2 separate regions of the Homo sapiens genome follow, and region 2 is linked to region 1. The links come from fine-mapping of genetic effects on gene expression. Tissue or cell type: left ventricle. Region 1 holds a variant in brackets; the other region holds the start of a gene. All regions are shown on one strand. Distances are from middle to middle. Region 1 overlaps CAPZB (capping actin protein of muscle Z-line subunit beta). Region 2 holds the start of PLA2G2A (phospholipase A2 group IIA).

The links. PIP is the estimated chance that this variant, and not a neighbour inherited with it, causes the effect.
Region 2: it holds the start of PLA2G2A, and the variant in region 1 is fine-mapped to the expression of PLA2G2A in left ventricle (GTEx, PIP above 0.99).

What each region holds. Positions count from the first base shown.
Region 1 is chr1:19,340,983-19,343,742 of GRCh38, forward strand. The region is part of intron 8 of CAPZB (capping actin protein of muscle Z-line subunit beta); the gene reads right to left. Among named protein-coding and RNA genes, the nearest start is that of SLC66A1, 30 kb to the left of the region's middle. RefSeq lists an enhancer at 1-744. The variant C/T (reference allele first, on the strand shown) is at 1,651.
Region 2 is chr1:19,978,150-19,980,649 of GRCh38, forward strand. It overlaps PLA2G2A (phospholipase A2 group IIA), which reads right to left and starts at 1,469. Exons shown (of 5, transcript NM_001395463.1): 1 at 1,431-1,469; 2 at 585-730; 3 at 231-375. The coding sequence starts at 624. RefSeq lists an enhancer at 113-612.

The DNA.
Region 1 (2,760 bases):
AAAATGGGCAAATGGAAGTGAAGCAGGGCCCAGGAGAAGCAACAGCACCCAGACTGAGTTCTGGCTACCGAATCCCTACAAGTCACAGGAAGAGCCCTCAAAATACTCAGCAGGTGCCATAAGACAAGACCTGGAAGCAAGCTGCATACAACTGAAAAAACTCCCAGGAGAAACGCAGACATTTGGTTCATGCTGGGGAAATACACGTTTCTGAGTATCTTCCCAGGACTGTCCCTGGCTCTGCGGCGGCCAAAGGCATCAGCCCCCACGGCCCCCAGGCTCCAAATCTCAGCCGATTCCCCAGGGGCTTCTTGCCAAGCTCACAGCGGGAGGTCAACATGGCCAGCGGGAGATGCGGCGGGCAAAGCAGCAGCGCACAGGACCTCTAGCCTGGGTGGTCACTGGCTCTTCTGGGAAGGAAGAGCCAAGCCCGCCAGGTCTTGGCTGGATCACACGAAGGAGAAAGTTCCAGAGCTAGAATCATGTTAGACACAGGAAGTTAGAAGTGAAATGGTGGAAGGCGGAAGGAGCAGGGGGCTTATTTAAGGGACAATGCTTGGGAAGGTCACGGCCAAGCAACCTCGAATCAGCGCTTGGAGACAGTGCTCGACTCTGTGGGAGGGAGGAGTCATCTTGAGCAGACCTGGCTGCCAGGGTTTCTACGCCAGGACGCCCCCAGTGGGCGGCCAGGGAACTGCACCATCACGGTGTATCTTAAAAAGAGTTTTTTCTCAATGCCATGATGGAAATGCCTGATGGCCACACTGTGAGGCTGACCCGAGTCGTGGGCCTTAAGTTGGCACACACAGACCAGACTGGTGCACTTAAGTCCCACGGCCTCGGAAAAGCAGCTCCACCTGGTTTTCTAAGTGCCTGACCCCACCTCCACCTTGGAAAGTCTGCTGCACCCCTTCTGGGGTGGGCCTTCAGTGCGCAGCCCCTGGACCTGGGCTCTGCAGCCCCAGTTGGCAGGGTTCCAAATGCCTTCTTTTTACAAACAAGTTTCCCTCCTACTCTCCAGGGATGCTGCCTCCTTCCCTACATCTGGATCTGTCACAAGCTCAAGTCATGGTTCTTGGCCATTACCAACAAGCAAGACTATTTTCCTTTCCATTAGCGAAACCTGTTTAAAGGAACAGCTGCAGCTCGTTAGGGGCGGAAGGTTATGCTGGTTGTGGCCGAGTCGGCACTGGGCGTCCAGGCAGCTCCAGCAGAGCATCTGGGCCAGCCAGGGTGGAGTCCAGCCCTGACTCTGCCCTCCAACCCCAGAGACTCAGAGATCAGAGAGTGAGGTCACCCCTTCCAAGCCAGCTAGCCCTGGACAGGCAATGTGCCGCTGAGCAGCGGGGAGGCTTATGTGGCTTCTGGGATCCCTGCACCAGCATCAGAGGCTCCTCTGAAGCATGGGGGGGTGGACGGCAGGCAGATCCCTGCCCTGGGGACAGTCAGGCCGGTGCACACAAGTGGCTGCTGCTGGAGAGGCAGCATCCGTCCCTTGGCCTGGGCTTCTTCAGAAGCAAAAGCCAAAAAATCAGCCGTCTTCCCCACACCCAGCCTCCACCCAGAGTGGAAAGCACACACACGTGATAGGTGCCGTGTTACATGGGGCCGAGGCTACACGGGAATGTGGCTGTGCACCGACCGGGAGCA[C/T]ACGTGGGGGTTAGTGGTGGTTTAAATGGCCGCGGAGCAGCAGCCGGACCGGCAGGGTCTCGGCGGGTTGGTGAGTCCTGTTTTAGTGGGGAGGGTCTCGCGGCTCTCAGGCAGGGTACCTGGATCGGCTTAATTATCAGGCTGGATGTAGATCTGGCGCTGGGTCAGCACTTGAGAGAGCTCCCTCTGCAACTGCTTAAACTTTTGGTTGTCAGGGATAGCATCAATAGATCTACAGAGAGTGTTCAAGATGAGTGGAGTGGGAGGGAAGAGAACGACGAGAAGCCAGGAACGCAGGGGGCCACAGCTGAGGAGGAAATTCAGGGAGACCCACGAGGCGGAAGGGGGGATGCCGTGGCGGCTCTGGGGTGTGGAGTGGTATCGCCGCTGCAGAGGTCCACGCTGGCGGTGGTCGTGGTATTCAGGGGCTCGCCACCACCACCCGCAGGCTCTTCGGCTTCTCTCCCCCACTTCCCAGCCACTGCCTGGGGACTGTGCAGGTTGGCTGGGCGGGAAAGTGTGTTTGGTGTATCGGGCAGTGGCTGCCAGTGGCAGGCCTAACGCCAGGGACCACTGGGCTCTAACCCTGTCACAGGTCACGAAGACCAAGCCTCCCCCAGGTGGGCAGGGGATCAGAAGACAAGGGTCCAAAGAGGACTCCTCCTCTGTTTTAAAACTGTAAAGCAGGTGACTGAAATCTGTCGCCCACCCCAGTCCACGAGCTGGGGCAGCCCCGGGACTGCAGCCTGCCTCTCCTCTGGGCTGGGCTGTGAGAGCTACACCACGGCAGTGGGTGAGAGGGCTGGCCGCTAAAGGCATAGCACAGCCCGACTCACACGGTGCTGCTGGACTGCAGAGCGTGTTCTAGATTCATCATCTCAGCCGACCGTGCCTCCTCGACTGGACAAGGGCCTCTGCGAGGAGTGCCAGAGGCCATGCAGCTCGGGATGACAGAGCTTAGGGGAGATCCCGGCCTCCTGACTCTCCTGACTCCAAGGCCAGTGCTCCCTCCACAGCCGTTTACTGCCCCCAGCTGGGCTCTGGCCTCATGTCAGAGGCCTGCCTCCTGCTCTGTCCGCCGTGGACCTGGAGGGTCCAGAGAGCGCCCGG
Region 2 (2,500 bases), 640 kb after region 1:
TGTCCCACAGCTCCAGGAGGCCTGGTGCCTGTGGTCTCACCCCCTTGGACCCTGGGCAGAGACCCAGTGACTTTGCAACAGTCTAGAGCAGAAGTTCCAACATGCCGGCTGCTTTTCCAGCCAGGCCATCCTGAGACCTCTGCGCCCATCAGGAACCGGCACTGTCTTTGCAGCTCCCAGCCCTGCCTGGGCCAGAGTCTAGGAGGGTAGGGAGGGATAGGTGGCCTCACCGATCCGTTGCATCCTTGGGGGATCCTCTGCCACCCACGCCACAGTGGCAGCCGTAGAAGCCATAACTGAGTGCGGCTTCCTTTCCTGTCGTCAACTTGATCATTCTGTGGAAATTCACCAAATTCCCATGGGCCTGCAGTAGGCCTGGAAGGAAATTTGGGAGTTGTCTGGTGATGGGGCATGGGGTTCTGCGCCCTCCCTCTCTGCCCCTCTCTGCTACTCTCCTTCCTCCCAAATGGCTTCTTTTTTCCCCCTGAGAGAGGATCACTGCAATGGGAGAGAAAACTAAGGGACAAGAGTGCTTCCCTTCTGGGGCTGTCCCCCCATGCTCAGAGGTCAGGGTCAGCTCTTACCAAAGATCATGATCACTGCCAACAGTAGGAGGGTCTTCATGGTAAGAGTTCTTGGGTGACAAATGCAGATGGACTGGCCTAGCTCCTCTGCTGGGTGGTCTCAACTTCTGCCCCGGCCGTCGCTCCCCTGCTCCTCCTTGGTGGCTCTGAGACACACAGACATGCTCTCCCATCCAACCTAAGTCCAGGGTGACTTCCTCTGTCACACTCAGAGCACACAAGGAGTGCCCTCCAGCAATGCACACACACACACACACACACACACACAACCACCTCCTGACCCGTTCCCAGCTCTGCAGAATGGTTTCACACACATCAGGCCCTCAGACCTGTGGAGAACCCCATGATACACTAATGAGACCTCCCCTGTACCTCATCAGACTGAGAGTTCTTGGGAGGTTGGAACCAGGTTCCTCCCAACTACCTGGGAGGTTCCTGAGGTCAGAGGATGTGTCCCTCGCTAGACATAGCTTGCATATCCCCACACTGGATTCAAGGCTTGGAGTCTCCAAGGCACCCATGGAGGCTCGGCCTCAGTATTTTCCTCCAGAATGAAAGCATCAACCTCTCTCTTCTAGGCCTTCTAACCCCTTCCACATACACAAGTTCCCAAACACATACATGTTAACACACCTATGCCCACATACACACACTCTCGTACTTACCTGATAGTGCCAACATCCTCTCTTACACTACACTCACATACTCACTCAACACACTCATGCACACACACCCTCTCATACATATCAAATCATGCACATGCATGCACAACACAGCCACTCTCAAAGGCAGCGAATGAGCAGGAATTCTGCTCTTGACAGGACATCAGCTTCGCTGGCTCTTTACCTCTCAGAGGACTCCAGAGTTGTATCCCCAGGCCGTCTTGTTTGTTCTGCACTCCTGCTCCCCTTAAATAGCTGCTCCCTCTGGGAGGTTGGGGGTAGGTGAGGCACAAGGCTGGGGATGGGCGTGGTCAGTTGGTGGACTCAGGATTGGTCGCCCATACCCCTAGGTAATCCCTTTCCTTCCCCTCATCAGCTGGCAGGACAGAGTTGAGGATTGGGAAACCTTACGTGTCAGTAGCTGATGCCAAAACACATTTCAGGCAGTTTTGCAGTCTTTCCATGGAGTAAATTCCCATAACCAGCTCTGGGTGTGATCAACGGTCAGCCACCTCCCTGCAATCGCCTCTAAGGGGGGCAGAGACTGTCTGCTGTTGCAGGCTGTGGACTCATTTGCACACCCAAAGGGACTACCAATTGCTGAGCAAGGATTGCTCCCTTCTGCTCAATGTGGCATTTGGGAATAGAAAAGAGGGCTTTTAGTGGTACTCATTCATTCAGCCGCTCAATCATTCATTCACAGGAAGTATGTCCTGGGCCTCTACCATGTTCCAGCACCTGTGCAGGCCTCACGTGTGCACCCCACAGTCCACCAGGGAGAGAGTTTAATGGGGGTGGATTTCCCTTCCCACTAACTTGGGCCAGGGCCTCAACTTTCTCTTCTTATTCTTCTTTCTTCTTTTCCTCCACCCCTGTCTCATATGAGCTTCTAAACCTGGAAAAAGCCAGAGGCTATCCTTGAAGTTCCCACCAAAGCACTGCCTTCACTTTATTCCCCATCCTCACCTGTTTGGAGACAGGGCAGGTGAATGCTCCCTGGATCTGTTGCTCTTTTTCCTTCAGCCTTCGGGCTGACACTGACTCCAGCTTTAATTCATAAAGTAAATATCTTTTTCATTGCTCTCCAGCACATGCTAAGAATTTAGCTTCCACCGCCTTAAGTAAACACTCTGCGATACCAGTCCTAAAAAAGTCACTGTGGCAGGGGCTGTGGTGCTTGTGAACATTCCATCTGTTCCCTACACTCTAGAGCCCCTTGCAGGGATGGAGACCTAGGGCCCTGCTGCTGACTGG